Linked DNA regions of Homo sapiens. The protein of the gene in region 1 interacts with the protein of each later gene in a pairwise test. Each region holds a gene or a part of one and is shown in the gene's direction. Other genes may lie near its edges.

The links.
Region 2: the proteins of CYP51A1 (region 1) and ZNF420 interact in a two-hybrid assay, tested with the Homo sapiens proteins (one large-scale study listed by BioGRID and IntAct).

What each region holds. Positions count from the first base shown.
Region 1 is NC_000007.14:92,111,497-92,114,738, reverse strand, and holds the end of CYP51A1 (lanosterol 14-alpha demethylase), read left to right. Parts: intron 1-895; coding exon 896-1,074; 3' UTR 1,075-2,586; downstream 2,587-3,242. UniProt on the Homo sapiens protein: Sterol 14alpha-demethylase that plays a critical role in the cholesterol biosynthesis pathway, being cholesterol the major sterol component in mammalian membranes as well as a precursor for bile acid and steroid hormone synthesis.
Region 2 is NC_000019.10:37,084,866-37,088,694, forward strand, and holds part of ZNF420 (zinc finger protein 420), read left to right. Parts: intron 1-160; exon of another isoform or gene 161-193; intron 194-3,829. UniProt on the Homo sapiens protein: May be involved in transcriptional regulation.

The sequences.
Region 1 (3,242 bases):
TGCTTAGCCCCTGAGTCATGAAGATATTCTCCTGTTCTTCTCTACTGAAATTTATGCTGTTAGCATCATGGTTTGTGACCCTTCTTGAATTAGTATTTGATTATGGTGTGACATAGGAGTTGAATTTCATTTTTCCCCCATGTAATATCTAGTTATTCCTGGACCTTATGTTGAAAAGACTTGCTTTTCCTCATTGGCTTGCTTTGGTGTCTGTACTGATAATCAAATAACCATAAAAATATTCTGTTCTGGGCTCTCTGCTCTGTTCCATTGATCTATTTGTTGATCCTTACCTAGTACCACTCTGTTTTATCTTTAGTCTTGAAGTCAGATTTGAAATCAGTTTTATGTCCTCCAACTCAGTTCTTTTTCCAAGATTGCTTTGGATATCCTAGGTCCTTTGCATTTTTATATGCATTTTAGAATCAGCTTGTCAGTTTCTACATGGGTGTGACTTTTTAGTATATTATTTTGGGTTCATTAAATCTCATTTTCTTCCATACATTTATAATGACATTTGAGGTTTGATTGGAAGGTTTTCATATTGACTTTTAACTAGGGCTTTCTTGGGACAAACAGAATATTCTACTATATTCCCAAACTAGATTACCATCTTATGATTCAAACTTTCCATATATTTAACCCAGATATATATTTTCAGAAAAAGTAATTGGAAAAGTTATGTGATCAGTCAAGTACTGTTTTCCTAAAATGTGGTATTGAAAATCTCCTGGAATTTTTAATAATTCATGTTGTTTTATGTGAAAAGAATGTCATCTTTTTATTATATTATCTGTACATTTGCTGTTCATCTAAAATGTAGATAATATCACCCCAGGCTAAAAAGGATGAGAAAGAATTTAAACTGATTCTTATAACTTTTTCTTTTTTTTAGGGCGTCATCGTTGTATTGGGGAAAATTTTGCCTATGTTCAAATTAAGACAATTTGGTCCACTATGCTTCGTTTATATGAATTTGATCTCATTGATGGATACTTTCCCACTGTGAATTATACAACTATGATTCACACCCCTGAAAACCCAGTTATCCGTTACAAACGAAGATCAAAATGAAAAAGGTTGCAAGGAACGAATATATGTGATTATCACTGTAAGCCACAAAGGCATTCGAAGAGAATGAAGTGTACAAAACAACTCTTGTAGTTTACTGTTTTTTTAAGTGTGTAATTCTAAAAGCCAGTTTATGATTTAGGATTTTGTTAACTGAATGGTTCTATCAAATATAATAGCATTTGAAACATTTTCTAATAGTTATGATACTTATACATGTGCTTTCAGGAAGTTCCTTGGTGAAACAATTGTTGAGGGGGGATCTAGGTAATTGGCAGATTCTAAATAATATAATTTCCAGATAGTAATTTTAAGAGTACTCATCGCTCTTGCCAAATAAGTTCAGGGTATTCAAATCTTGGACTAGTCCTGCAAGGTATAAAGAATAAAAATCCCAGTGAGATACTTGGAAACCACAGTTTATTATTATTTATCTGGGCAATTATTGTGTGTGTGAGGATGGAAGGGTAGGGAATAATCGAACATCTAAAGCCTTGAATAAGAGAATACTAATTGTTTTGGTATGATGATACTCAGAAATGGAGATATTATAGGAAAAAGAAATCCTTTGGAATTTTAACTAAAATCACTGCATATGGGAAATTAAGAGATCCAGGACCATATTTGATAAGAGTTCCTAAAAATAATGTAATTATTAATGCTAAAGACTGCTCATGTATCTTGATCTAATTACTAAATAATTACATATTTATTTACCTGATAAATATGTATCTAGTTCTACAAGGTCACATTTATGTGGAAGTCCAAAGTCAAGTCCTTAGGGGATAATTTTGTTTTGGCTCAGTTGTTCCCTGCTTCCTTTTTTTTTTTTTTTTTTTGAGATGGAGTCTCGCTCTGTTGCCCAGGCTGGAGTGCAGTGGTGCGATCTCAGCTCACTGCATCCTCTGCCTCCCGGGTTCAAGCAATTCTCTGCCTCAGCCTCCCAAGTAGTTGGGATTACAGGCACCTGCCACCATGCCTGGCTAATTTTTTGTATTTTTAGTAGAGACGGGGGTTTCACTATGTTGGCTAGGCTGGTCTTGAACTCCTGACCTCGTGATCCACCCGCCTTGGCCTCCCAAAGTGCTGGGATTACAGGCATGAGCCACCGCACCTGGCCTTCCCTGCTTCCTCTCTAGAATCCAATTAGGGATGTTTGTTACTACTCATATTGATTAAAACAGTTAACAAACTTTTTTCTTTTTAAAATGTGAGATCAGTGAACTCTGGTTTTAAGATAATCTGAAACAAGGTCCTTGGGAGTAATAAAATTGGTCACATTCTGTAAAGCACATTCTGTTTAGGAATCAACTTATCTCAAATTGTAACTCGGGGCCTAACTATATGAGATGGCTGAAAAAATACCACATCGTCTGTTTTCACTAGGTGATGCCAAAATATTTTGCTTTATGTATATTACAGTTCTTTTTAAAACACTGGAAGACTCATGTTAAACTCTAATTGTGAAGGCAGAATCTCTGCTAATTTTTCAGATTAAAATTCTCTTTGAAAAAATACAGTCTGTATTCATGAATTGTAAAATATGTGCTTCAGTGAGCAGAGTTAGGGAATCCAGGAACTTGGGTGGGGAAAAATTACATCTTTATTTGCACTAATAATTTCTAACTGCAATTTAGTATTTATTTCAATTATGAATTTGGGCAGCATTTTATTAGCAGTATCCATGATTTTGTCAATAGAAATCTCAGATATTTTCATATTACAGATGTTACAGATTTCTTGAAGTATCTAGTTACGACCCCGAGATAAGGCTAGTCTAATGTTTAGTGAATAGTTTTAGACTTCTTAACAGATTTCATTTTTAATCACAGACTAATTAATTATTGAGATGCATAAACAAGTGTGATTGCAGAGGCCTACTATCATAAGGAGGCGTGGTGGTCAAACAATGGCACTGAACTCAGCTTGATCAGATCATTTGTCCATCTGTTTTTTTCTCCACTGTCTCTTAGAGCAGAATAGCCTTGAATGGCAAGCCATGCTAGCTGAAAAAGGTTTTTACCCACAACCTGCCCCTTCAACTAACTGCTTTAGAGTACGTTTGCTATTTTTAGAATTCCTCTTATTGGAACCCAGCTTCTAATGTGGAAAATTTAAGTATAGTTGGCTCCTTTTATTTGTGGGTTCTGTATCCTCTGATTCAACCAACT
Region 2 (3,829 bases), on another chromosome or scaffold:
TTTGGTAATATTTTTTTTTGAAAACTTGATAGGGGTTTGTAAACTGTATTAATCTTTTGAAAGAATTGATTTTTGAGTTTGTTGATATTCTCTATTGTAATCTACTTTATATTGTGGATTTTGTGCTTATTTTTATTCTTTCTTTTCTTCTTACTTTCAGCTTCACTTGCTCTTCTTTTTCCAGCTTCCTAAGGTGGGAGCCTAAATCATTTTTCTAACATAAGCATTTAACACTATTAATTTTCCTCTAAATACTGCTTTTGTTGCAGCTCACAGAATCTGATAAGTGTGTTTCCATTGTCACTCAGTTCGGCATATTTTTCAATGTCTTTTTGCATGGGTTATTTAGAAGTATGTTTAATTTCCAAATATTTGGAGATTCTTGTTACTAGTTTGTAATTTAATAATATGTGGACACTGACCACAGTATATTCTCTGTATAATTCAGTTTTTAAAATATTTACTGTTACTTGTTTTATGACCCAGCATCTGGTTTATTTTGATGACCTTTCCATACGCAGTTGTTAATGAAGAGTCTGACTCTTGCTAAAATCCTATGTGTGGGTTCTCAGGCTCCACCAGGTCATTCCTGGCAGGCCACACAGGGGAAAGGTGGCCTCCCCGCAGCAGACTTGGTGCACTTCTAGTGCATTACAGTCTCTAAAGGGAGTTGCAGTGCAGGACTCAGGCCTCCCAGACCAGCCATGCTGTTATGCGTGTTTACATTCCTAACCCAGGCACCTCCATTAGGAGGCCTCTTTATCAGGTGCCTCTGCCAAGAGGACATCCTAATCTAGGGGAGAGGGGAAACTTTGAAGACACTTTCTTTCCCCACTCTTAGTATCCGGTAGTTTTAATTTTTTTCTTTATTTCTTTTTTCTTTCTTCTCTTTTCTTTTTTTTTAACATATTTTTGGAGACAGGATATTGCTCTGTCGCCCAGACTGGAGTGTAGTGGCATGATCATAGCTCATTGCAGCCTTGAACTCCTGGACAGTTCAAGCAATCCTCCTGCCTCAGCCTCCCAAGTAGCTAGGACTACAGGTTTGCATCACAATGCCTGGCTGATGTTTTATTATTATTATTATTATTATTATTATTATTATTATTATTATTTTGTAGAGACAGATTCTTGCTATGTTGCCCAGGCTGGTCTCAAACTTCTGGCCTCAAGTAATCTTCCTGCCTCGGCCTCCCCAAGTGCTGGGGTTGCTTACAGGCATGAGCCACCGTGCCCAGCCAGGCCTCACTACTTTTTCACTCTTAGCCCTTCCCTTGTCTTCTTGTCCCCTGGTCCCAGTCCATAAAATGAATGATAGGAGCTTTTTGTTCTGCATTCCCTTAGCAGTGAGATGACTCACTTCTGCACTGATCCACATTTGCACTGATCTGCCTGACCCTCTCTGACCCTCTCCAGGTGCTATTTCATGGTTGGGGTTGGGGGAGTGAAACAGTGGAGTACTCAGCGCTTTCTCTGGGTTAGCCTCTTAAATTAAGTGACTACTAAGTGATTAAAGGCTGGTTGTGTTAATCACTTATTCCAACACCTTGCAGCTCAGTTCTCTTCAGCCCAGCTTGGCTTTTGGTAAGTGGGTGTGGTATTCTATTAATATATATTTATCATCTTGGCCAAGGTACTTGATATAGTGGTATGTAAATCCTCTATATTGTTATCGATTTTATTGTCTACTTGTTCTGTCAGTTACTGAGCAAAAGATTTTACAATTCCCAACTCTGTGGGTTTGTCTCTTTCTTCCTTTAGTACTGTCAATTTTTGCTTCACACATTTTGAAGCTTTGTTGTTAAATCTCTACATTTGGATTGCTGTCTTCTTGATGAGTTGATCCTCCTTATTGCTAGTATTTCTCTTTATCTTGAAGTCTATTTTGTCTTATACTAATATAGGCATACAAGCTTTCTTGTGATTAGAGTTTGATGGTGTATCTTCCCATTTTACTTTTAGCCCATCTTTATATTTAAAATGTGCTTCTTGTAAAGAGCATGTAGTTGGAACATGCATTTTTATCTTGTCTTGTTACCATTTTTTTATTGGAATGGTTGAACTATTATTAATACAATTTAGTTTAAGCTCTGCCATAGATGGGAGCATCCATATGTGGCTCTTAAGAAGAGCTTAGGGCCACATGTGGTGGCTTATACCTATAATCCCATCACTTTGGGAGGCTGAGGCAGGAGGATTGCTTGAGGCCAGGAGTTCAAGACCAGCCTGGGCAATGTAGCAAAACCTCATCCCAACAAAAAAAGTAAAAATTAGGTGAGTATGATGGCACATGCCTGCAGTCCTAGCTACTTCGAAGGCTGAGGAGGGAGGATTACTTGAGCCTAGGAGTTCAAGGTTACAGTAAGCTATGATCATACCACTGCACTCCAGCTTGGTTGAGAGTGAGACCCTGTCTCAAAAAAAAAAATAAATAAATAAATAAATAAATAAATAAATAAATAAATAAATAAAAATTAAGAGCTTGGCACTTTTTTGGAGTTTAGGTCTTTTAAATTTGTGCCCTCAGCTCTCTGATGAATTTAAAAGAAATTATGACTTTTCATCTTATCTGAATTATTTTTAGGTTGTTAGGATGGGCCCAAGTATCTCTTGCAGAAATCTATATGTTGAAGAAGTCAAATTTTCAGTTAAAAATGTATTGAGCACCTGTATCAATGATTCTCTGCAGGGGCAGTTATTCTCCCTAGAGGGTGTTTTGGAAATATATCTAGGTACTGTTGAATGTTAAAGTAAGTGGGTTGAGGGTAAAGACTTCTAGCTTTTTTGTTTGTTTGTTTGAGACAGAGTCTCACTCTGTCGCCCAGGCTGGAGTGCAGTGGCGCGATCTCGGCTCGCTGCAAGCTCCGCCTCCCGGGTTCACACCATTCTCCTGCCTCAGCCTCCTGAGTAGCTGGGACTACAGGCGCTCGCCACCACACCCGGCTAATTTTTTTTATTTTTAGTAGAGACGGGGTTTCACCATGTTAGCCAGGATGGTCTAGATCTCCTGACCTCGTGATCCGCCCGCTTCGGCCTCCCAAAGTGCTGGGATTACAGGCGTGAGCCACTGCACCCGGCCGATTTCTAGCTTTTGAAGGAGTGAGGTCTCGGATCTAGGTTAGAGATTACCCAACTTTTTCTGTAAAGGGCTAGACATTTCATATGGCTTTGCGGGCCACATGGTCTCTGCTGCAACTCTTCAGCTCTGCTGCTGTAGTGTGAAAGTAGCCAAAGGCACTATATAACTGAATGAGTATGGACGTATTCCAATAAAACCTTATTTACAAAATTAGTTGGTAGACAGTAGTTTGCCAAGTTATGATTTAGTTGTCCATCAGTGCATAACAAAAAATTGTCTGTGATTTGCAAAATTGAGAACCATACCTGGAAAAAATGTGTTTATGATTTTCCAGGTCTGGAATCTCTTACATAATGCATTTTGTGCATGACTTTTTCAATTTGCTGAATTTATCTACTTTCCTATTATTGGATGGTTTTACTATTAGCTGTATCTTCCAGGAATGCAACCATGATTTGATTGAGAAAAAGGCTCTACTTCGCTTAAGAAATTTACTGAGTTTTTTTTAACCATTTCAAAAAGTTATAGTATTGATGGCAATGCTAATTGTGTTATTTGTCTTGCCTATAGCAAATATGTATAGAAACCTCCATTTATAGATAATGCATTTCTATTTATTCTATACGTACACATGAACACACATATATTTAGCCTTTATTTCAAAATGTCAAATATAAAAGGTGTCAACAATACTTAGTTACATATTGTCATTTTATAAGTCTAAATTTCTTCATTATAAGTAATTGTAGG